Homo sapiens: one gene and its partners. The protein of the gene in region 4 interacts with the protein of the main gene of each other region in a pairwise test. Each region holds a gene or a part of one and is shown on either strand. Other genes may lie near its edges. The genes, in order: IK, HINFP, ARPC3, EFTUD2, GSK3B, TTC27 and CYFIP1.

What was found.
Region 1: the proteins of EFTUD2 (region 4) and IK interact in binary tests that used the Homo sapiens proteins (3 or more experiments, as listed by UniProt).
Region 2: the proteins of EFTUD2 (region 4) and HINFP interact in a two-hybrid assay, tested with the Homo sapiens proteins (one large-scale study listed by BioGRID).
Region 3: the proteins of EFTUD2 (region 4) and ARPC3 interact in a two-hybrid assay, tested with the Homo sapiens proteins (one large-scale study listed by BioGRID).
Region 5: the proteins of EFTUD2 (region 4) and GSK3B interact in a two-hybrid assay, tested with the Homo sapiens proteins (one large-scale study listed by BioGRID and IntAct).
Region 6: the proteins of EFTUD2 (region 4) and TTC27 interact in a protein complementation assay, tested with the Homo sapiens proteins (one study listed by BioGRID).
Region 7: the proteins of EFTUD2 (region 4) and CYFIP1 interact in a two-hybrid assay, tested with the Homo sapiens proteins (one large-scale study listed by BioGRID and IntAct).

The regions. Positions count from the first base shown.
Region 1 is NC_000005.10:140,650,829-140,654,328, reverse strand, and holds part of IK (protein Red), read right to left. Parts: intron 2,616-3,500; coding exon 2,523-2,615; intron 2,242-2,522; coding exon 2,182-2,241; intron 1,353-2,181; coding exon 1,185-1,352; intron 392-1,184; coding exon 277-391; intron 1-276. UniProt on the Homo sapiens protein: Involved in pre-mRNA splicing as a component of the spliceosome. Auxiliary spliceosomal protein that regulates selection of alternative splice sites in a small set of target pre-mRNA species. Required for normal mitotic cell cycle progression.
Region 2 is NC_000011.10:119,124,580-119,128,079, reverse strand, and holds part of HINFP (histone H4 transcription factor), read right to left. Parts: intron 2,801-3,500; exon of another isoform or gene 2,313-2,800; coding exon of another isoform or gene 2,281-2,312; intron 1,146-2,280; coding exon of another isoform or gene 1,136-1,145; coding exon 955-1,135; intron 1-954. UniProt on the Homo sapiens protein: Transcriptional repressor that binds to the consensus sequence 5'-CGGACGTT-3' and to the RB1 promoter. Transcriptional activator that promotes histone H4 gene transcription at the G1/S phase transition in conjunction with NPAT.
Region 3 is NC_000012.12:110,443,838-110,447,337, forward strand, and holds part of ARPC3 (actin-related protein 2/3 complex subunit 3), read right to left. Parts: intron 1,715-3,500; coding exon 1,615-1,714; intron 1-1,614. UniProt on the Homo sapiens protein: Component of the Arp2/3 complex, a multiprotein complex that mediates actin polymerization upon stimulation by nucleation-promoting factor (NPF).
Region 4 is NC_000017.11:44,854,446-44,857,945, forward strand, and holds part of EFTUD2 (116 kDa U5 small nuclear ribonucleoprotein component), read right to left. Parts: intron 2,713-3,500; coding exon 2,630-2,712; intron 560-2,629; coding exon 473-559; intron 238-472; coding exon 111-237; intron 1-110. UniProt on the Homo sapiens protein: Required for pre-mRNA splicing as component of the spliceosome, including pre-catalytic, catalytic and post-catalytic spliceosomal complexes. Component of the U5 snRNP and the U4/U6-U5 tri-snRNP complex, a building block of the spliceosome.
Region 5 is NC_000003.12:120,000,448-120,003,947, forward strand, and holds part of GSK3B (glycogen synthase kinase-3 beta), read right to left. Parts: intron 1,793-3,500; coding exon 1,599-1,792; intron 1-1,598. UniProt on the Homo sapiens protein: Constitutively active protein kinase that acts as a negative regulator in the hormonal control of glucose homeostasis, Wnt signaling and regulation of transcription factors and microtubules, by phosphorylating and inactivating glycogen synthase (GYS1 or GYS2), EIF2B, CTNNB1/beta-catenin, APC, AXIN1, DPYSL2/CRMP2, JUN, NFATC1/NFATC, MAPT/TAU and MACF1.
Region 6 is NC_000002.12:32,666,050-32,669,549, reverse strand, and holds part of TTC27 (tetratricopeptide repeat protein 27), read right to left. Parts: intron 2,916-3,500; coding exon 2,782-2,915; intron 1-2,781.
Region 7 is NC_000015.10:22,942,369-22,945,868, forward strand, and holds part of CYFIP1 (cytoplasmic FMR1-interacting protein 1), read right to left. Parts: intron 2,572-3,500; coding exon 2,494-2,571; intron 2,292-2,493; coding exon 2,190-2,291; intron 987-2,189; coding exon 805-986; intron 1-804. UniProt on the Homo sapiens protein: Component of the CYFIP1-EIF4E-FMR1 complex which binds to the mRNA cap and mediates translational repression. In the CYFIP1-EIF4E-FMR1 complex this subunit is an adapter between EIF4E and FMR1.

The DNA of each region.
Region 1 (3,500 bases), on a different chromosome or scaffold from region 4:
GGTAAATGAAACAGAAGGGCTATGCAAAGGTACAGGAAGCAGGAGGTGAAGGGAAGTGCTTAACCACACCTGGGTGATCAGGGAAGGTTTCTCCAAGGAAATAAAATTTGGCCTGATACTTGAAGGATGAGTAGCAATCAGCTTTTCAGAGGGGCCATCTTTAGCCCTTCTTCTACTCAGTCTGAACTCTCAGGAATCTCCCTCCTCATCTTGCCAGACCCATACAAGAGCATTCAGCACGACAGTATTACTCCCCACCTGACCACCAGGACTCACCTTTTGAAGCAGAGCAAAATCCAAGCCTTTCACCAAATGGGTGTGTTCCATGTCACCACCCAAGAATTTGGACTCCTGGATCAACTGTCTTCTCTTCTCTGCAGCTGATTTGTCCCTGTATAATGAAAGAGGCCACATAAGAACAGTACTGTCCAGGCGTGGTGGATCACGCCTGTAATCCCAGTACTCTGGGAGGTCAAGGCGGACAGATCACAAGGTCAGGAGTTTGAGACCAGCCTGGTGGATATGGTGAAACCCCATCTCTACTAAAAATACAAAAATTAGCTGGGCATGGTGGTGGGCGCCTGTAGTCCCAGCTACTCGGGAGGCTGAGGCAAGAGAATCGCCTGAACATGGGAGGCGGAGGCTGCAGTGAGCTGAGATCGCGCTACTGCACTCCAGCCTGGGCAACAAGAGCAAGACTCTGTCTCCAAAAAAAAAAAAAGGGGGTGGGGGAAAGGGGGTTGGGGGGCCAGGTGCGGTGGCTCACGCCTGTAATCCCAGCACTTCAGCAGGCCGAGGCGGGTGGATCATGAGGTCAGATCGAGACCAGCCTGGCTAACACGGTGAAACCCTGTCTCTACTAAAAATACAAAAAATTAGCCGGGCGTGGTGGCGGGCGCCTGTAGTCCCAGCTACTCGGGAGGCTGAGGCAGGAGAATGGCATGAACCTGGGAGGCGGAGCTTGCCATGAGCCAAGATCGTGCCACTGCAGTCCAGCCTGGGTGACAGAGCGAGACTCCATCTCAAAAAAAAAAAAAAAAAAGAACAGCCCTTTGTGGGTGGCAAATGCCTCTGAAATCGCTTATTGTAGGCTCCAGGGCAGGAAAGTAAGAGGAAGAGTTCACATTGTATTTGCATGACTCTCGGATGCTGAGGGAACCATGCCCTGTTCCCTCAGTACTCACGCCTCAGCAGTGGGGCCAACAGCCCTATAGTTAGCTGTGGTGCTGATAAGCTCGGTTTCTTCATAATCTTTGTTCACTCCATCTCTCCGTTCCTTGGCACGATCCCGGTACTTCTCTGCTAGCTCTCTCTCTCTCTCAATTTCTTGTTGGCGTAGCTTGGCATAATAACTGTGACCAGAGAAAGGCAAATGTATAAGGCTCATCAGCTGCTACCTCAAGGTCAACAGAACTGTTCCTGCTTGCTTCCCTACATCTCCAACCTACTCTCTATGGGGAAAAGCTCATGTCTGTCCTGATAGAACTGCTGGCCACCTCTTCGTAGTTACTCAAAATCAGAACTACAACTTCTTCCAGCTTATAGATATACTTTTCCAGTGCCAACTTGGGACACTCCATCTGTCACTTCAGAACTTTTTAATACCACCCAACTCTACCAATTCTCTATAGATATAAGACTTTTCCACACAAAAATCAGAAAATCTTCTGAATTTTTACCACCTTCTAAATTTCAGCTGAAAAGAACGTATTATTTGCTGGTCCACTCTCAGAATAAAGGAAAAGCCAAGTACCAGGTCCTGAAACTTTCGTATCATATAAATAACGATGATGATATAATAATGATGATGGCCGTCAAGATTTATTGGGTGGTTACCATATGCCAGGCATTGGTGCTAAATGCCTACATGTACTTTCACAGCTGATCCTCATGACATCCTGATAAAAGTTATTATTGCTACTGTATCTCCATTCTATCTGTGGATTAGAGAGGCTAAGCAAATGTCTAGGTTATCCACCAAGAAACTAGCGAAGATGAGATTAAAATATAGATAGGCCTATTCCAAAGCCCTCTACTGCCACTCTAAGTATCACTCTGTTTCATTAAGAAAGTAGAGAGCCTCAAGACAAAATCTTAGTTTCTAGCTTCATAATTAGCCCCTACTTCTTTCCCCTAAACACTATCCACCTTAAAATCTAAAACCCTTCACCCTTCCTTCACCTTTTCTTTTTCCTCCTTCGTGCAGCTGGGTCTTCATCCTCATTGTACTCCCTTGGCATCCTAGAAGAGACGAGAAATTCACTGATAGCAAAATATTGCCACAGCCCCAGAAACCCCAAGAAGTCTCCTTGAGGATTTTTAGAAAGACCTAGAATACTGATCAAAGTAACACTTTCAATCAAGCAGAAATCCACACCAATATTTGTAGGTGGGCAGTTCTCAAACTTTAGAGAGTATCATAAATACCTGAGGGACTATTAAAAGTCATTCTACTTAGTAGAAAGAAATAGGAAGGAGCAAGAAACAAGTTGGGAGACAGGTTGGATCACCCAAAGACTTACTCATGGTGACGTGACTTAGAAGGTGGTGCAGAGGTAGGTGCAGCCCTGGGGGTCATGAGAAGTTTCCTGAAGTCTTCATTGGTGAGTTTTGATCTAGAAGAAAAGGCAAAGATTTTAAATATTAGGACTCAATAAGAAATGAAAAAGGAACAAGTAAAAATCATGATTAAATTAACAGAAATCAGGGAAATACAAATTAAAACAAAGATATGACACTGTTTTTTTTTTTTTGAGACGGAGTCTCACTGTCACCCATATTGGCCAGGCTGGTCTTGAACTCCTGACCTTGTGATCCACCCACCTCGGCCTCCCAAAGTGCTGGGATTATAGGGATGAGCCACCGCACCCAGCTTTTTTTTTTTTTTTTTAAGACAGAGTCTCCCTCTGTTGCCCCGGCTGGAGTGCAGTGGCATGATCTCAGCCCACTGCAACCTCTGCCTCCTGGGTTCAAGTAATTCTCCTGCCTCAGCCTCACAAGTAGCTGGGAATACAGGTGCCCGCCAACACACCCAGCTAATTTTTGTATTTTTATTAGAGGTGTTGGCCAGGCTGGTCCCAAACTTCTGACCTCAGGTGATCTGCCCACCTCAGCCTCCCAAAGTGCTGGGATTATAGGTGTAAGCCACCACGCCCGACCAGATATGCCATGCCACTTTTAATGCATCAGAGTGTTAACTACCAGAAAGTTTGATAAATCAAGTGTGAGTGAGAATTTGGGAAGGGGACTCTCTCATATAATGCTGATGAGAATGTAAACCAGTATAACCAATTTGAAGGGCAATTTTGCAGTATTTGTTAAAATTTAAGTATATATATCCTATGAGCCAGCAACTCCATTTATTTATATTTAGCCTGGTCCATTACTGACATATGTATATAAGAAGGCCTGTAAATTTAATTCAGTTATAGCCTTGAAAATAATCAGTCTGGCCGGGTGCAGTGGCTCACACCTATAATCGCCGCACTTTGGGAGGCTGA
Region 2 (3,500 bases), on a different chromosome or scaffold from region 4:
GAGATTGAGACCATCCTGGCCAACATGGTGAAACCCCATCTCTACTAAAAGTACAAAAATTAGTTGGGCGTGGTGGCGCGCGCCTGTAGTCCCAGCTACAAGAGGCTGAGGCAGGAGAATTGCTTGAACCTGGGAGGCAAAGGCTGCAGTGAGCCGAGATCGAACCATTGCACTCCAACCTGGCAACAGAGCAAGACTCCGTCTCAAAAAAAAAAAAAAAAATTGGAAGGTGGGAGTGGGGTTGGACTTGGTGGCACAAGCCAATAGTCCCAGCTACTTAGGAGGCTAAGGTAGGAGGATTGCTCGAGGCCAGGAGTTTGAGATCAGTGGGCAACATAAGCAAGATCCTGTCTCTAAAAAAAATTTTTTTAAAAATTGGCGTGTGGTGGTGGTACATGCCTGCAGTCCTAACTACTCGGGAGGTTGAGGCAGGAGGATCCCTTGAGTGTTGAAGGCTGCAGTGAGCTATGATCATGACACTGGACTCCAACCTGGGTGACAAGATGAAGCCCTGTCTCTAAAAAGTAAGATGTATTTCTGACTGGTTGCAGTAAAAGAAAAAAAAAATTGGGAATACTAGAAGAGTAAAAAAAAAAAAAAAAAAAACACAACAACAAAACACAGGTTGCCAACAACTTGTACAGAATGATTAAAAAAAAGCACATTCATCTGTATTTAAATATATGTAAACACAGGCAGAGAGATGTCAAAAACAATGTTCACTAAAGTACTGTCAGCAATTACTTCTTGATGGCAGGATGGCAGATTTATTCCTTATATCCTTGTTGACTGAGTTTTCTATAAATGAGTTTACAATGTTTTTATATACAACAAAAACACAATTAGGAAAATAAACCACCATTCTCTTAGGCCGCCTTCTCCCTCTAAGGAAAAGAAAGTCAGATTTTCCACCTTTCCTTGAGCTCCTCCCCTTCCTGTGTCCTGCTCTCTTACCAAGTGGGTCATCCTCCTCTTCCTCTTCCTCCTCCTCCCCAGAGCCATGCAGGTGCTGCTGCAGGTGCTGAGTGACATGCTCAAAGAACTTTTCCATGGTTGAGCACACAAAGGAGCAGGACCCCCACTCACACTGTAGCCACAGATTCTCCTTTCGGGGAACTTTCCCAGGAGGCGGCATGGCCTTCACCCTAGAGGAAGAGGAAGAAATCCACAGCTGCAAGAATTCCACCCAGGTGCTGCTGAGGGCAAAAAGCTGGGCAGGCAGCCTGCCTAGAATCAGCACGTGTTGTTCCAGTGACCCATGAGAAACCCTGCCCTTTTACAGTAAGGATGGAGTAATTCCTTAAATCCCTGGAAGATGTCTGGTGTTTGTGGAAAGGGAAAACAAAAACTAACACTATTGAGTGTGTGCCAGGCACTGAGCTAAACGCTTTAACAGACATTTTCTCATGAAGCTTCAGAGCAACCCACCAAGAAGGAATTATTCCTCTGTGAGGCAGAACAATGCTCAGGTTCAAACAGATGGCTTTTGAGAAGGATCAGGGTTCAAATCCTGGCTCCACTGTCTACCATCTACTAGCTGTATGACCTTTGTCAAGAACTTAACTTCTGAATACTCTCATCTGCAAAATGAAGATAATAAATCTTTTTGTTTTTAATTTCACACTTACTATATGTCAAGCACCACAGTAAGCATTTTATTTGCATTATGTCATTTAATTACCAACACCACCCTTTGCCGTAGGTGCTTTTTTTTTTTTTTTTTTTGAGATTGAGTTTCGCTCATCTCCCAGGCTGGAGTGCAATGGCTCGATTTTGGCTCACTGCAACCTCCGCCTCCCGGGTTCAAGCGATTCTCCTGCCTCAGCCTCTTGAGTAGCTGGGATTACAGGCGCCCGCCACCACGCCTGGCTAATTTTTATATTTTTCGTAGAGACAGGGTTTCTTCCCCATGTTGGTCAGGCTGGTCTCAAACTCCTGCCCTCAGGTGATCCACCCACCTTGGCTTCCCAAAGTGCTGGGATCATAGGTGTGAGCCACCACGCCCAGCTGGTAGGTGCTATTTTTAACCTCATTTATAGATAAACACCTGAAGTTCCAGAGGTCAACTGACTTGCTCACGGCCACACACTAGTGGTAATGGTAGGGTCATGTTGGGCTGACTCTAGTCCATATACGGTTCTACTCCATAGAGCCTACAGATGAGCCTAGAAGCTCCTTATTTCTTATTGAATCATAAGTCCCCTGCCAGACTTTCACAGTGCCATACAATCTGCCTTTACCTAACCTATCCAACGGTTTACTCCACCACTCTGCTAATACCTTCTGTTAAAATGTAGATTCCATTTGAACATAAAAAGCCGTATCTGTGTAGTTTATACTGCACCTTGGGTGTCTATACACTGCTAGGCATGCTTAGGCATGTAATAAATATTTTTTTTCTTGAGACAGAGTCTCACCCTGTCACCCAGGCTGGAGTACAGTGGCACAATCACAGCTCACTGAAGCTTCGACCTCCCCAGGCTCAGGAGATCCTCCTACCTCAGCCTCCCAAGTAACTGGGACCACAGGCATGCGCCACCACATCTGTCTAATTTTTGTTTTGTTTTGTTTTTGTAGTGACAGGGTTTTGCCATGTTGCCCAGGCTGGTCTCGAATTCTTGGACTCAAGCAACCCATCTGCCTCAGACTCCCAAAGTGTTGGAGTTACAGGCATGAGCCACTGCACCCAGTCTGTAATAAATATTTATTGAAGAAAGATAAACATGAAACTGAAGGTTCTCGGCTGTGCGCACTGGTGCACACCTCTAATCCCAGCACTCTGGGAGGCCAAGACAGGTGGATCATCTGAAGTCAGGAGTTCAAGACCAGCCTGGCCAACATGGTGAAACCCTGTCTCTACTAAAAATACAAAAATTAGCCAGGCGTGGTGGCACAAGCCTGTAATCCCAGCTACTCGGGAGGCTGAGGCAGGAGAATCGCTTGAACTTGGAAGGCAGAAGCTGCAATGAGCCGAGATCGTGCCACTGTACTCCAGCCTGGGCAACAGAGTAAGACTCTGTCTCAAAAAAAAAAAAAAAAAAAAACACACACACACACACAAACAAAAAACTAAAGGTTCTCAATTTTATTTCATTTTATTTTTATTTTTTGAGACAGAGTCTCGCTGTTACCCAGGCTGGAATGCAGTGGCGCAATCTCAGCTCACTGCAACCTCCACCTGCCGGGTTCAAGAGATTCTCCTGCCTCAGCCTCCTGAGTAGCTGGGATTACAGGTGTGTCACCACGCCTGGCTAATTTTTGTATTTTTGCTAGAGACAGAGTTTCACCATGATGGCCAGGCTGGTCTCGAACTCCTGTCCTCAGGTGATCCACCCGCCTCAGCCTCCCAGAGTGCTGGGATTATAGATGTGAGCCACCATGCCCAGGTAGCTCTCAATTTTAGATCTGCACACGAATGTAGTTATCCAGCGCCTGCGTGAGAAGTTCGGATTCAGGAAGGCAGGAGTTAAGCCTAGAAATCTGCCCTTTTAACTCAGCAC
Region 3 (3,500 bases), on a different chromosome or scaffold from region 4:
CCAAAGGATTCTGAAATTAGAAGAATACTTGGCACATAAAAGGCATTCTACAGATATTTGTTGAATATAAATGAATTAGTGTGATTAATGCTGTTATTTAGCTCACAGCACAGGCCTCCATTCCAATTCAGGTTTTTTTTTTTTTTCTTTTGAAACAGAGTTTTGCTCGTTGCCTAGGCTGGAGTGCAATGACATGATCTCGGCACACTGCAACCTCCACCTCCCAGGTTCAAGCAATTCTCCTGCCTCAGTCTCCCAAGTAGTTGGGATTACAGGCATGCGCCACCATGCCCGGCTGATTGTTTGTATTTTTAGTTGAGATGGGGTTTCTCCATGTTGGTTACGCTGGTCTTGAACTCCTGAACTCAGGTGATCCACCCACCTCGACCTCTCAAAGTGCTGGGATTATAGGTGTGAGCCATCACGCCTGGCCTTTGCAGTGAAAAAAAATTTTTTTTTTTTTTTGAGATGAAGTCTCACTCTGTCACCCAGGCTGGAGTGCAGTGGTGCAATCTTGGCTCACTGCAACCTCCACCCTCTGTGTTCAAGCGATTCTCCTGTCTCAGCCTCCTGAGTAGCTGGGATCACAGGTGCCCACCACCATGCCTAGCTAATTTTTGTATTTTTAGTAGAGTTGGGGTTTCGCCATGTTTGCCAGGCTGGTCTCGAACTCCTGACCTTAAGTGATCCACTTGCCTTGGCCTTCCAAAGTGCTGGGATTACAAGTGTGAGCCACCGCACCCAGCCTTGTGATTTTCTTTTATGTTATTTTTCTTCTTTCCCAGGCTGTCTTCTTCCTTGTTCCTTTTCCTCAGAATCAAGTAGAGACTGTGGTGACTCACCATATGCATTAAGTTTACTGAGCTTTCAAATGGTGTTGAAAACAAAATTAAGTTTAAAAAAGGTCAAGTCAAACAGTCTGGCAGAGAAATGGGGACTGGATAAGTACCAAATTGGTAATTATAATAATGGTCTTGGAAACCATGAATGGAATTCAGTTCAGACCCTTGCAGGGTACAGGGAAACCATGTCTAACATAATACAAATTATACTGTTGGGAGAACATCTCAGAAAGCATCAGAAGAGTCTCAGACAGTGTCTGAAAAATATTGCGGCTTTCTGAAATAAAATTCAGAAAAGCGGGAATAGACGTAAGTAATGTTACATAGTACACTTCAGATTTAAGATTGAGGTATTGCTAAAAATGAAGATCTTGAAGAATGAATAAAGGAAGTAGATTTAGACGAGGAAGAGGTTAAAATATTTGTTGTTGTTCTTTTCCAGGTTGATGACAGAAAGGATGGGCATGTGGCATTCTAGACGTAACAGCATTAGATTTGTTTGAAAGAACTGATAAACAGTGTCCAGAATTAAGCACATTTCCTCCATTTTCTCAAAAGAGTTTCCTGGAGAAGTCAGAAGAAATAATACAATTTCCTATTAAATGCAACATATAACCACTATCTTGAAAGGTCTAGACCACAGTATCTACCAAGCAAAGTACAAGGGCAATTTGAGAGAGAAGACTGAGCTAAGAATTTTTCTGATTTGATCATTTCAGAAGATTGTTAGGCATTTCGTACCAAAATTTGAAAATAATGGGTTTAGACTTACTCTCTCTGGGGGCAGGTCCTTTGAATTGACTTCTGATAGGCAACAGTGCCATGTTTCCGATGAGTTTGGTATCAGGATCCATGAGAGAAGAGTGGTAAGCCTGTAATGGCAAGCCCAGGAAGAACACAGAAGCAGAAAAAGAGCAAATGTCACTGTGGCAAACAACCTTCCCTTAAAGGAAAAAAAGAGTAAACCACCCAAGATTAATTAGGGGAGGGAGAAGGGATAGCAGCATTGAGGTGCGAGGGCTGGTTCTTTCTGGCTCAAGAAAACCAATTGTTAAATTTTGAGGCATTTTTCAAGCTGGTTGTTAAACACAGCTCTTCTCAAAAATCAAATTATATAAACTTACAATTAAGTAAATGATGTTGGCTGGACGTGGTGGCTCATGCCTGTAATCCCAGCACTTTGGGAGGCTGAGGCAGGCAGATTGCCTGAGCTCAGGAGTTTGCAACCAGCCTGGGCAACACAGTGAAACCCCATCTCTACTAAAATATAAAAAATTAGCCAGGCGTGGCGGCGTGCGCCTGTAGTCCCAGCCATGTGGGAGGCTAAGCTGGAGAATCACTTGAACCCAGGAGGCGAAGGCTGCAGTGAGCCGAGATCGTGCCACTGCACTCCAGCCTGGGCAACAGAGCAAGACTGTCTCAAAAAAAAAAAAAAAGTAAATAATGTTAAAAACAATGATGCTTAAGTATTCATCACTTCTTTTTTTTTTTTTGAGAAGGAGTCTCACCATGTTGCCTAAGATGATCTCAAACTCCTAAGCTCAAGTGTTCCTCCTGCCTCAGCCTCCCAAAGGGCTGGGACTACAGGTGTGAGCCACCACACCTGGCTACTTCCTAATTTTTTTTTTTTTTTTTGAGACAGAGTTTGGCTCTTGTTGCCCAGGCTGGAGTGCAATGACATGACCTTGGCCCACTGCAACCTCCGCCTCCCGGGTTCAAGTGATTCTCCTGCCTCAGCCTCCTGAGTAGCTGGGATTATAGGGATAAGCCACCACGCCCAGCTAATTTTGTATTTTTGGTAGAGACGATGTTTCTCCATTTTCGCCAGGCTGGTCTCGAACTCCCGACCTCAGGTGATCTGCCCGCCTTGCCCTCCCAAAGTGCTGGGATTACAGATGTGAGCCACTGCACTGCACTTGGCCTACTTCCTAATTTTTTTTTTTTTTTGAGACGGAGTCTTGCCCTGTCGCCCAGGATGGAGTGCGGTGGCGCGATCTCTGCTCACTGCAACCTCCGCCTCCTGGGTTCAAGCGATTCTCCTGCCCCAGCCTCCCAAGTAGCTGGGATTACAGGTGCGTGCCACCACGCCCAGCTAATTTTTGTATTTTTAGTAGAGACAGGGTTTCACCATGTTGGTCAGGCTGGTCTCGAACTCCTGACCCCATGATCCACCCGCCCCGGCCTCCCAAAGTGCTGGGATTACAGGCGTGAGCCACTGCACCCGGCAATAACCTAATTTTTAAAAATTACATTTTACTATTGTCTATGTTCTTAAGGTTATTATTACGAAATACTAAATAATGGGGTGCTGCTGTGCATCTCTTCCAATTCTATGTTCGGTGACATCACATTGGTATCTGGCCAAAGTATTTCCACTACAGAAAGACAAACATCATATAAATCAGGGTACCCAGCCCCCAGCTAAACCAAGACCCAAGCACTATCTTTTCAGCTCTGCCACTTCATGGCGTTATGCTTTTGACCAAGACATCATTCTTCTTCTCTTAGCTTGTTTCCAAATTTGTAAAATGAGAAGATATATATTCCCTTCAGTGGGTAGGTGTGTGTTAAAGGAAGGGATAAAAAAAATCACATTTATGAGAGCATTTTGTATGCTGATTCTTAGTTCTGCTTTTTACAAGATGTCTGGCTTTTTAT
Region 4 (3,500 bases):
ACTGTCCTTCACCAGAGGACACAAGATACTTTTGGGAAAAGAACACTTTGTAGTTTCTTCCACTCCAGAGGTAAGAGACCGCCACCCAGTTCCCATCAGTTCTGCTGTACCTCAGAGGGCAGAGTATCATCCACCAGAATGTTGGGGCCAGTCGCATCAGGGCCAAAAGCCCAGATGGAACGGGCAGCCAGCAGATCCCAATCGTACTTGGTCTGGAAGAACTCTCCCAGCTTCTTCCTGGGGAAGGGAGGAGACAATGGAGCTGTCAGCCAGCTCTGTGATTGCTGGTCCTGGAGCCACAGACCCTCCCTTCCTGGAAGACAGTCACTTCATCCTACCCACTGTGCCCAGAACAAGAGCAAAGGCAAAGACATAAATGCTCCCCAGAAAGATGTGTGCTCTTAGAGACCCGGCAGTTAAACTGTGGCATCCCTGCCTCCTTTCGACCCTGGCGTCAGAGCCCTGTTCTCACCTGTTCCACGTAATCTGGACCACCTCATTCTCTATGTCCTCTGCCAGGCCCTTCTCAAGAGGCTCAGCAATCATGGTGATCTTGTTCCTGGTCAGAATGGAAATGGGTGGTAAGGACGGCTAACAGAACAGCAGAAGAGGCATTACTAAGAAAAGGGTAACAAGACGGACAGCTGAGGAAGTGACATCAGTGAAAGCCACAGGGGCCAAGCGTGGTGGTTCAGACCTGTAATCCCAGCACTTTGAGAGGCCAAGGCAGGAGGATCACTGAAACCCAGGAATTTGAGGCTGCAGTGAGCTATGGCTCACACCACTGCACTCCAGTCTGGGTGATACAGCAACATACTGCCTCTTAAAAACAAACAGCCAGGCGCGGTGGCTCACCCCTGTAATCCCGGCATTTTGGGAGGCCGAGGTGGGCGGATCACAAGGTCAGAAGATCGAGCCTACCCTGGCCAACATGGTGAAACCCCATCTCTACTAAAATACAAAAAATTAGCTGGGCGTGGTGGCGTGCGCTGGCACATGCCTGTAATCACAACTACTCAGGTTGAGGCAGGGGAATCACTTGAACCCAGAAGGCGGAGGTTGCAGTGAGCCGAGATTGTGCCACTGCACTCCAGCCTGGCGACCGTGCAAGACTCTGTCTCAAAAACAAAACAGAACAAAAAAAAACCCCAGACAAACAAACAAACAAACAAACAGAACCTGGGCAACAAAGCAAGAGACCCCATCTCTATAAAAAATTAGCCAGCCGGGTGCGATGGCTCATGCCTGTAATCCCAACACTTTGGGAGGCTGAGGCAGGCAGATCATGAGATCAGGAGTTCGAGACCAGCCTGGCCAACACAGTGAAACCCCATCTCTACTAAAAATACAAAAATTAGCTGGGTGTGGTGACACTCACTCCCTGTAGTCCTAGCTACTCGGGAGGCTGAGGCAGGGGAATTGCTTGGACCCGGGAGGCAGAGGTTCCAGTGAGCTGAGATCGAGCCACTGCACTCCAGCCTGGGCTACAGAGTGAGACTCTATGTCTCAAAAGAAAAAAAAAAAAAGAAAAACAAACCCAGGTGTGGTTAGCACACCTGTAGTCCCAGCTACTTGGGAGGCTAACTAAGGTAGGAGGATCGCTTGAGCTCGGAAGGTTGAGGCTGCAGTGACCCATGGTGGCACCACTGTACTCCAGCCTGGGTGACGAAGTGAGACCCTGTCTCAAAAAAAAAAAAAAAAAAAAAAAAGCCACAGTATCAGGGGCAAGGTGGAGCAAAAAGGGCAAAGGGCTCATCTTTCTTTCATTTCAATCTACTGGTCTTTATGAAAGTAAGGTTTAAGCTGGGCGTGGTGGCTCATGCCTGTAATCCCAGCATTTTGGGAGGCCGAGGCGGGCGGACTGCCTGAGGTCAGGGGTTCGAGACCAGCCTGGGCAACATGGCGAAACCCCACCTCTACTAAAAATACAAAAAATTAGCCAGGTGTGGTGGTGCGTGCATGTAATCCCTGCTACTGGGGAAGCTGAGGCACAAGAATTGCTTGAACCTGGGAGGCAGGGGCTACAGTGAGGCGAGATCGTGCCACTGTACTCCAGCCTGGGCGACAGAGCGAGACTGTCTTAAAAAAAAGAAAAAAAAAGTAAGGTTTAAGCTGGGCATGGTGGCTCACACCTGTAATCCCAACAATTTGGGAGGCCAAGATGGGAGGAACACTTGAGCCCAAAAGTCCAAGACCAGTCTGGACAACAAAAAATAAAAAAATTAACAGATGGCCTGGTGTGTGCCCATAGTCCTAGCTGCTTGGGAGGATTGCTTAAGCCCAGAAAGTTGAGGCTGCACTCCAGCCTGTGTCAAAAAAAAAAAAAACAAAAAAACAAAAAGTGAGTAAGATTTGGAGTAAACTTTTAAGATAGTCATTTTATAGAGACAAAGTGGCAGTTATGAAACTCCTCTTGGGAATACCCAAGGCGAATAATCCCATGTCATTGTGTTCAAAGGCAGAAGGGCTGAGAGGGCTGGAGTGAAACTCAAGTATTGTAAGCACCCCCTATTCTGAGCTGTAGAGGTCTCTATGTGCATAGTGCTCATGGTGGGGGTAGAGGTGGAAGATAAAGGAGAGAGAGTGTCCAGGAGGCTGCAGTCCCAGGGACACTGTGCTCCCAGCTTACTTCTTATTAGGCGTTTCAGCAAAGCACTTGAGGGAGGATGTTTCCACCACCGTCTCACAAAACGTGACAACTGGGTCAGCCACCTGGGAAACAGAAAATAAATTACTGAAGCGAGGTCTAATTTTGTTGGAAGGGCAACCATTTACCTAAGGGAATTCAGAAGCTCCCTTGACACTACCTCTGTGAAAACCCCAACTGCCTTAATCAGCACAAGTGATAAGTACAACAGCAGGTTAAAAGAGCTGTCCAAATCATCACCAAAAAGCCCAAGAAAACTTACTGTAGTAAAGAAATTAGATTCCTGAGCCAAGAGTAAGTGGGGTATCAAACTAGGGCCTTAATTCTAGTCTTCAAAGGTAGCTCTCAGCATCCATTCAGCCATCTACCACCATTCACTGAACAACCCCCATGGGTCTGACAGAGCTGGTGCTGAGACCCACTGGCGTGCACCCATGTCATTCTCAACCCACAGCATCTGAGTGAAGCTCTGCCCTGAAGCCCCAACATGGTCTGCTGCCCAGGAAACCCAGTGTTTTCTATGACACCAATCCTTCCTCCTTCCTAGATACATCAGTAGAGGAGTCTAAGAGGGGTATTGAGGGTCCTCCACAGGGCCTTGGAGAAAATACGACTCAACTAGGACAAGGAGGCCAAGCAACACATGGTTTGAGGGGCTACATCAAGGCTTGACAAAGAATCTGGGAGAGACAGTCCCCACCCTCTCCTTGAAACCACCCACTCTGAGACCTAATCACCACCCATGGGTTAATTGTTTAATTGTGCAATTATTTCCCTAACAAAGGACCAAGAATAACTTTGGCTTGGGAGCCTTTATTTTCTTTTTCCTTTTTTTTTTTTTTTTTTTGAGACA
Region 5 (3,500 bases), on a different chromosome or scaffold from region 4:
AGAATGTTCCAGATATTTACAGCAGATGGACACTAGAATGTGGTATAACTAGTGTTATACCAGAACAGTGATCACTTCTTCTTGTTATATCCCTTCATGTTTACCATAGATCTTGGTACATTGGAGGCTCCCACTAAAATGTTGCAGAGGTTGGAAGAGTAGTAAAGGGAGCAACGCTGCATAGTGACAGAGGCTTAATTACACCCGGTGTCTTCTGACTCTCTCTGCTATACCACAACATAGAGATGACATCTGAGCTTCCATGCATAGGCTCCCCTAATGAGGTACAGAAAATGAAAATACATGACGAGAACTGAATTTTGGGATTGCTAGTGTCTAAAGGCAGAAGGACAAGAAAAAAAAGGGAAGATAGCAAAAAAAAAAAAAAAAAGTTACGAGAAAAATGGATAGTGTTGTAATATGGTTTGGATGTTTATCCCTTTCCAAACCTCATGTTGAAATGTAATCTCCTTTTTTTTTTTTTTTTTTTTTTTTGAGACAGAGTCTCACTCTGTCCCCCAAGCTGGAGTGCAGTGGCGCGATCTCGGCTCACTACAAGCTCTGCCTCCCGGGTTCACGCCATTCTCCTACTTCAGCCTCCCAAGTAGCTGGGACTACAAGCGCCCGCCACCATACCCGGCTAATTTTTTGTATTTTTAGTAGAGACGGGGTAGAGCCTGGTGGGAGGTATTGGATCAAGGGGGTCAACCACTCATGAATGGGGTTAGCACCATCCCCTTGTTGATGAGTGAGTTCCCACTCAGTTAGTTCACAGGAGATCTGGTTATTTAAGAGAGTCTGGGGACGGGCATGGTGGCTCACGCCTGTAATCCCAGCACTTTGGGAGGCTGAGACAGGCGACTTGCCTGAGCTCAGGAGATTGAGACTAGCTTGGACAACATGGCAAAACCCCGTTTCTACAAAATAGTAATAACAATAATAATAATAATAAAGTCTGGATCTCCCCCTTCATGCTCTCGCTCAGCTCTTGCCATGTGATGCACCTACTCGCCCTTCACCTTCTGCCCATGATTAGAAGTTTCCTGAGACAATTACTAGAAGCAGATGTCTGCACCACACTTCCTGTACAGTTTGCAGAATTGTGAGCCAATTAAACCTCTTTTCTTTATAAATTACTCAATATCAGGTATTCCTTTATAGAGATGCAAAAACAGACTAACACAAGTTGCAACATGGATTAAAAAAATTTTTTGAAAAAAGGAAGCATAGTCAAATACATAAAATGCTTATATGCTACAGGCAGTGTTCCTCTGGTCTACATCAACACAGTACAACGGTGAGGACAGGTCACTTTTTATAGTATAAATTAAGAAATTTTAACTTACCTTTCACAGGATTAAAAAATACATATATTACATATGTCATTTGTAATGACTACAAAAGTAATACTGCAATCTTCAGTGAATGTTATCTCTACAAAATACATGACTAGAAATAAAATCACTACAATGGTTGAGCTGAACAAAAATGCGCACAATAGAAGAAATTTGAAGCAAAAAGAAGCAACTAAAAAAATAATCATTTATGGTATATGTATTACGACAGCAACAAAATATATGAAATACTGGACATTTTACCTTAAATCTCTTGTCCTGCAATACTTTCTTGATGGCGACCAGTTCTCCTGAATCACAAAGTTTGGCTTGATATACCACACCAAATGATCCATTTCCAATCACTTTAGTGTCTGTATAGCTGACTTCTTGTGGCCTGTCTGGACCCTGCCCAGGAGTTGCCACCACTGTTGTCACCTTGCTGCCGTCCTTGTCTCCTAAAGGAAGAAAGGAAATTTTTTTTTCACGAGAACTGTAAGGAATTAAATAGAGAAAACTGCCAAAATATACAAGGTAAACTATATTCTTTATTTTTTATTTTATTTTTTTTTTTGAGATGGAGTCTCACTCTTGTCACCCAGGCTGTTGTGCAGTCACACAATCTCGGCTCACTGCAACCTCCGTCTGCCGGGTTCAATCAATTCTCCTGCCTCAGCCTCCCGAGTAGCTAGGATTACAGGCACCTGCCACCACGTCTGGCTAATTTTTGTATTTCTAGCAGAGACGCGGTTTCACCATGTTGGCCAGGCTGGTCTTGAACTCCTGACCTCAGGTGATCCGCCCTCCTTGGCCTCCAAAGTGCTGGGATTACAGGCATCAGCCACCACGCCTGGTCAAAGTAAACTATATTCTTTACTACAAATTATTTTTAGTTTATTACATGTAATTACTTCAATTACTTGTTTCAATTATAAGTCATTTTTTAAACTCCCATGTATTCAGTCATTCTATAGACCAGACACAATGCTTAGTTTCAACCCCATGAGGTAGACAGTACTGTTCCCATATTATAGGTAATAGGAAGAATGTTAAATTTGCCCATGGTCAAATAGCAAAAGGTGAACCCATAAGAGTCTGACCTTATCCATCCAATTCTAAAAGGCCTTAGGGCTTTCTTCAAGACCTTATTTTACTTGAAAATAAAATATGTGCAAATAAAAATGTTTAAAACTTCTCTCTTCAGATCCTTCTGCATTTAGGAAAGTAAGGCTTTGAGTGTTTGCTTCCCTGAATCTTCTTTTTAGCAAAGTAGAAGACCTCTCAGAGAAAGCTCAGGTGGAGAAAAGAATGTTAATTTGGGGTTAACAGATATAAAAATTTAAATAATCCAACCCATTCTGAACTGAGGCCCAATTATATAAGCATATCACTGGCTCCAGGGTCTCTATTCACTCACAGACCTCTTCTTTCCTTTTTTGCCTTCTCTCACCCCAGTAGCAATCCAACGGCTCTCTTCAATTCAGGCACAAGAGCCACCTCCTACTTCACTAGGGATAGTCCACAGTCACCATCTTGTTTTCTGAATTCTTAATCGATTCTGTGTATTATGCTACCTAGTATCTGATCTAAAAGAGCTTTACATTGTTCTTTTAGTGACTTCAACGTACACAAAAATGTCTACTGTTTCTTCTCTCTTCCCTGACAAATCTAAAACCAATTCTCAGTACAATATAAGTCCTTAGGCTCACTTATTGGACTTTTATTTTTTCCTGTTATTCTTCCATTACAATTTCCTTTCTAAAATACTAACTGAATTCCAATTAACCTAATAAAAGAAAAGTAATATAATATTTATGAGTATTTTTCTCTGTGAAATATAAATTGCTAGATAAATGAATATCCAAATGCACTAGTGGAATATTATAACCAATATTTATATCCATTTAAATTCACAGAAGTATTAATATACACAAAAGCCAGTGAATGTCTGTGACCAATTAACACTTTCATTTGTAAGATGGCATTCATGGTCGCTTCCAAGATGGCTGAATAGGAACAGTTCTGGTCTACAACTCCCAGGAAGATCTTTGCAGAACACAGGTGATTTCTGCATTTCCAACTTAGGTACCTGGTTCATCTCACTGGGACTGGTTGGACAGCAGGTGCAGCCCATGGAGGGCGAGCCGAAGCAGGGTGGGGCATTGC
Region 6 (3,500 bases), on a different chromosome or scaffold from region 4:
GTAGTGTTCCTTTCCTTTTCCTGAAAAATGGTTATTAAACAGATGGTGTATATTACAATCTAATAATGTGTTTAACACAAGGTAATATGATATATAACCAACTTAACAATTCTCTTCCACCCATTAGAATAAAGCTATGTTTCTATCTAATCCATACCTACAGCATACAACTTGTACTCTCCATCTTCAAGTAGTAATTAACAAAGACCATAAGATTATCTGAATGTATTTTATTTCACATACAAAAGATTAAATTCTGGCCGGTGCAGTGGCTCATGCCTATAATCCCAACAGTTTTGGGAGGCTGAGGAAAGTGGATGGCTTGAGCCCAGAAGTTCGAGACCAGCCTGGGCAACACGGTGAAACCCCATCTCTACCAAAAATACAAAAATTAGCCAGTCTCATAACCTGGTCTCTAAATAGATAAACAGGTAAAATTTATTTTTTATTTATTGATTTATTTTTTTTTTTGAGATGGAGTCTCACTCTGTCGCCCAGCCTGGAGTGCAGTGGCACGATCTCAGCTCACTGCAAGCTCCGCCTCCCGGGTTCACGCCATTCTCCTGCCACAGACTCCGGAGTAGCTGGGACTACAGGCGCCTGCCACCACTCCCAGCTAATTCTTTGTATTTTTAGTAGAGACGGGGTTTCACTGTGTTAGCCAGGATGGTCTCCATCTCCTGACCTCATGATCCGTCCACCTCGGCCTCCCAAAGTGCTGGGATTACAGGCGTGAGCCACCACGCCCAGCCAAAATTTTTAAAATAAAATAATTCTGAAAAAATTTCTGATAGCCACATGTAATATATTAAAAATGTTAACCACATTAACCCTGTAACATGTATTACATGGTGAATCCCAGCACTTTGGGAGGTTGAGGCAAGAAGATTGCTTGAGCCCAGGAGTTTGAAACAAACCTGGGCAATATAGTGAGAACTCATCTCCATTTAAAAATGGAAGGAAGGAAGGAAGGAAGGAAGGAAGGAAGGGAGGGAGGGAGGGAGGGAGGGAGGAAGGGAAGAAAGAAGAAAAGGAGAAAAGAAAAGAAAGAACAAGCAAAAAAACGATTAAAATTCTGTATTAAATGGTACATCATTTTCATACATTTCTCATAATACTCATCATATCCTATTTATCACCAGGAGATAATTTTCTTTTCTTTTTTTTTTTTTTCAAAGGGAGTTTTGCTCTTGTTGCCCAGGCTGGAGTTCAATGATGCAATTGCACTCATTGCTCATTGTAGCCTCCACCTCCTGGGTTCAAGCAATTCTCCTGCCTCAACCTCCCAAGTAGCTGGGATTACAGGCACACACCACCACAACTGGCTAATTTTGTTTTTTTGTTTATTTTCTTTTTTTTGAGACGGAGTCTTGCTCTGTCACCCAGGCTGGAGTGCAGTGGCATGATCTCGGCTCACTGCAAGCTCCGTCTCCCAGATTCACGCCATTCTCCTGCCTCAGCCTCCTGAGTAGCTGGGACTACAGGCACCCGCCACCACGCCCGGTTAATTTTTTTTTTTTGTATTTTTAATAGAGACGGGGTTTCACCATGTTAGCCAGGATGGTCTCAATCTCCTGACCTCGTGCACCCACCTTGGCCTCCCAAAGTGCTGGGATTACAGGCGTGAGCCACTGCACCTGGCCTAATTTTGTATTTTTAATAGAGACAGGGTTTCACCATTTTGGTCAGACTGGGCTCGAACTCCTGACCTCAAGTGATCCACCCACTTCAGCCTCCCAAAGTGCTGGGATTACAGGCATGAGCCACCATGCCAGGTCAATCACTGGGAGATACTTTTCTATAGAACAACTCCACATTAAAAAACAACAAACACAGCCAGGTGTGGTGGCTCACGCCTGTAATCCCAGCACTTTGGGAGGCCGAGACGGGTGGATCACCTGAGGTTGCGAGTTCGAGACCAGCCTGACCAACATGGAGAAACCCTGTCTCTACCAAAAATACAAAATTAGCCGGGCGTGGTGGTGCATGCCTGTAATCCCAGCTACTCGGGAGGCTGAGGCAGGAGAATCGCTTAAACCCAGGAGGCGGAGGATGCATTGAGCCGAGATTACGCCACTACACTCCAGCCTGGGCAATAGAGTGAGACTCCATCTCAAAAAAAAAAAAAAAAAAAAGTAGTTGGGGGTTTCTGGGATCAGAAAACACATGCATAAATACTAAACGGCTTCATGGAAGCAGCTGGAGTGGACTATAATTAGGTAAACTGACCAAGAGTCATAATTCAAACTAAAGAAGAGAATTCACTAGACATGTCAAATAAACATACTAAGGCAACCACCCCCCCAATAATGACAGAGAAACAAAAGGCCGATCACAAAACTAGTGAAAAGGAATTCTGATAATGTTTATATATTTAGAAAAAGCCTAAGAGATTCCAAGAGAAGACAAACATAAGGAAACAAATATGATAGCAGATAGAGAAACTGGTCTACACCCAGTCTGCCTTTCGTATTTCTTCAAGAGGGGTAATACATAACTAACTGCATCATTAATTCATAGTTATTGAATCCTAGAAGAAAAACAGTATTTATCTCTATATACAGGTTAGGAAAAAAAAAACACCAGTTTTTTCTATCACAGGTTAGGAAAAAAAAACACCAGTTAAACACCAGTTCTCCCTGACTCAGCAACCTTTAAAAGGCAAAAGAAAGAATAAAATGAAGTCTGTCCCCAACCCATTCAGTGTTTCTATGGTACTCAGCTATTGAAATTCTTAGACTCAGGTGTTAATTGAATTTAATAACTTAATGTCCTACTTGCCTTGGTTAAATGTTCCTGAGGAGTGGGTGCTGGAGTGAATTCACAATTTGAAAGGACATCCCCTTCCCTTCTTACATCTAGAATCAGTTGTGCCACATAATTTTCCTGGAACCGTGTTCTTTTTCCCAAAGCACCTGAAAAAACAATAAAATTATATCTACTGACTTACCCATGAGATCTACTGTACAGTCATGAAGAGTAATATTTTCAGAGTGCTTTAGAGTTTACAAGGTATTTTCTCCATTTCACATAAGAAAGTCCTGAGGCCCAGCCTCAGGTTTTAAATGACTTATAAAATTAGAAAGCCAACAAGCTCTGGTACCAGGACTCAAACCCAGGATTTCTGCCACTACAGTCCACATACTAATTTTTGCATCAAACTACCACCCTTTAAAAAAAAAAAAAAAAAGTAACACATTGAGTGTTGTAGGTAGAAGAACTATTATTATCTCTTTTTCACAGATGACAGAAACAAAAGTTCTAAAGAATACAGTCATTTGTTCATGATCACAGGGCTTCTCAGCATCAGAACCAGAGCTTAAAGCCAGGATCTTTTGGTTCTATATCAACAGTTTATTACACTATCTGACTTCATGTAAGACCAAAATTTTTTCATTATGTCTCTGAAATAACTTACTGCAGAATAGCTGTTTTCAAACCACTTTAAGAAAAGCAAAAGTTCCAACATCCACTCTCTGGACAAGGTCAGATTACAAAGA
Region 7 (3,500 bases), on a different chromosome or scaffold from region 4:
AGCAAAACATGTCTTCAAAAGCACTGAGCACAGATGAAGCAGAGCAAGAGCATCAGGAGACAGCGTGCCAAGTGTCACCAAACGCCGGTCGGCAGCGTGCCAAGTGTCACCGAACGCCGGTCGGCAGCGCGCCGAGTGTCACCAAATGCCCATCGGCCACCCACTGCCCCACACTGCTCCAGAAGCACACACTGGGCCATGCCTGCCTCTTCCGCTCGTCTTGCCAGCCTCTCCAGAGGCTAGCTTCTCCAGAAGCTCTCTACATCCAGAAAGAAAACCACCAGGGAGAGGATCTGGAAGCGCAGTGTGACCACGAGACACCCTGTGACTGTGCACGGGCCACGTCTGCACATTGCTGGGATGGTGCTCATGTGCTGGGGACCCCCGCTGGCGAGTGACCGGCACCGAGGACTGCAGCCCCAACGCCCAAGGTAGGCTGCAGAGGCCACCTGCCCCCTTGCCAAGATGCTCCCTGAGCCAGATGCCTGTGCTCTGTGAGCTAGGCCTACATCTTGTGCATGTCTGTCTTCCCAGGGGCTCGAAGGTCCTCTGTGACATCTGAGGACAGCCAGGGCACGAAGAGCCTGCTCTAGCTGTGCAAAGCCACGATATGCACTTATCTGCTGGCTCCCCTCACCTTATCCCTCGAAGCAGGTGCTCACACAGCCCTGACACTGAGACGTAGCTGCTGCCTACCAGAAGTGACGACTTCAGCAAACAAAGACGCACACCTGCTGTGCACAAGGCAGGCCACTGAGCTGGGTGCTCTCGGGAGGGCCCGCAGTGCGCGAGGTGGGTGCTCACCTCTTGTACGCTGAGTGGTCGTTCTTCACACTGCACTTCATGTTCTTCAGCTCGTCCAGCACAGCGAACATGTTGATGAATTTGCCCAGTGTGATCAGGTAGGCTTCTGACACGAAGTCCTTCCTCCTCTCGGCATGGCACAGGCGCCTCACTTCCCCGCAGAAACGCTCAATGGCATTTCTCTGTGCAGAGGAAGCAGGAGGGCAGAAAGCTGCAGGTCAGTGAGGAGCCAAGCCCATGTCCCTCCTTCAAGCACCTGCAGTCACTGCTCCTCGATGAGAAACGATCTGCCCAGTGAGGCTCCAGGCCGAAGTGTTTACAATGTGGGCAACCAGACCCCTTCCTGAAAGCAGCTCCCACTGCCTGCTCTGCACCATCATTACTTGACTTGCACTTTACCAACTACATCACTAAAGTAACAAAATCTTGCTGATTATTCCAGCAAAATTACTGAGCAAAATGCTCCAATAAAACGCCTGTAAAATTCAGATGTTCTAACTTTCAGAAGTGAAAACTGGGAGAGATTTTTTTCCTCTTGGTAACTTTCAAGGTAAAACAAAAATTCATCTCCCAGTTAGTTCCATCTCCTCCCTTTGCTGAAGGACATCATCATAAAAAATCTGGATGTTTCCAAAATACTTCTTTAAAAAGCAGCAAGCCCCTTCCATGTGGCTACTTCTTGCCTAACCAAGGCCAGGGCGAGGACCACCAGGAATGGACAGTCAGGGTGAGGCTAACAGCAAGAAAATACCTGAAAGAGCAGACGAAAACAAAAGTACAAATTGGCCAGGCGTGGTGGCTCACACCTGTAATCTCAGCATTTTGGGAGGCCAAGATGGGCAGATCATCTGAGGTCAGGAGTTCAAAACCAGCTTGGCCAACATGGTGAAACCCTGTCTCCACTAAAAATACAAAAATTAGCTGGGCGTGGTGGCGGGCACCTGTAATCCCAGCTACTCAGGAAGCTGAGGCAGGAGAATCGCTTGAACCTGGGAGGCAGAGGTTGCAGTGAGCCGAGATCATGCCATTGCACTCTAGCCAGGGCGACAAAGCAAGACTCTGTCTCAAAAAAAAAAAAAAAAAAAAAAAGTACAAACTGGCAAAAAGTCAAAGCATTGTACTTGAAACTGACAGAAAGCAGGCTCCATGAAGGAAACATAAAATCACTCTCAGAGAAGAGAAGTGAACCACAAAAGGAGCGTTGATTCCGAAAGGGCATGAGGAACTTTAGACTGTCAAAGGCTTGGTCCCTTTTGTCTCAGAAACTGGTTGCTTTAATTTGCAGGCACTCTGTTCAGGGTGTTCACAGTGACAGTGATGGGTAGGAAGGGGTCAGCAACCCACCCCTCGGTGTTACACCCCCCCCAGATTATTTGCCATTTTACCTGGAAGTACATGAAATTCATCAGTTTTGTGACCTCAGGCTCCAGAACCTCCACGGTTTTCTCGTAGATTTCCACTCTGTTAGGCTGCTCGTTACATTTCACCTGGGAATAAAGGAACAAGGATGACATAAGAGGCTTTGATCCAGCCAGAAGCAGCCGCTGGGCTTCTAGAGCTAGTGATCCCGCCCTGCTGTGGGGTGAGAACTGGGAGGAGAGTGGGCCAGGCATGGCAGGGGCAGGGGTGTGGTGTGGCAGGGGCCTGGCAGGGTGTGGCTGGAGGGGAAGAGCCAGGCGAGCGTGGCACCTGTGGGATGGCCCGGGAGCAGCTCCTCCAGGTGTACAGCATGACAGCATATTCTTGGCCCTCCTCCAGCATCTCGTTCTGCAATGGAACACAGGGCAAATCAAAGGCAGGCGGGGGAACTAGCATGAAAAGCAGATGCCAGTTGCTAAAATCCAGACAAAGCGCCACAAACTATCCTAAGCACTGTGGCCTGTGTGCCAAGAGACGGCTGCCAGAAGCTAGTGACACTGAGGTGCGGCGCTGGGGGCCACAATGACCACCCAAAACACCCCATGGCTTCTGCAGGCGAGAGGGGTGTCAGTGACACGCAGGCATCTCTGAGGGGTGCCACAGGCGTTACACCTTGGCTCCACCCAGCCCTCAACAACCTGCTGGCCATGAGACCTGCAGTTAGGAACACAGAGGAAGGGCTCAGGGCAGACGCCCTGCCCGGTGTGAGCACACACAGGATCCCCATGGCCTCCTCACTGGCTCACAGGGCCTCCCGGTCCCAGAGAGGACTAGAGGCAGGGCTGCCAGCCCCGGGTGTGCAGGAGGAAAAGTTAGGAGCACGCCCACAGCACTTAAAATCTAGGTAGAGAGTCCATGGGAAGAGGACTGTCATCACTGCTGTAAAACTGCTTTTGCTTTCCACTCTTTAACATCGTTTCCTTTGGAAAAAATCAAATAGATGCTCTTAAATCTAGCCTTTATTTAGTGAGACGTTCATCACAGTATTTTTTTTTTTTTTTGAGACGAGTCTTGCTCTGTCCCCCAGGCTGGAGTGCAGTGGCACGATCTCAGCTCACTGCAACCTCTGCCTCCCGGGTTCAAGCAATTCTCTTGCCTCAGCCTCCTGAGTAGCTGGGATTACAGGTGTGCGCACCACCATGCCTGGTTAATTTTTGTATTTTTTTTTTTTTGTAGAGACAGGGTTTCACCATGTTGGCCAGGCTGGTCTCGAACTCCTGACCCTAGGTGATCCGCCCACTTTGGCCTCCCAAAATGCTGGGATTACAGGCGTGGGC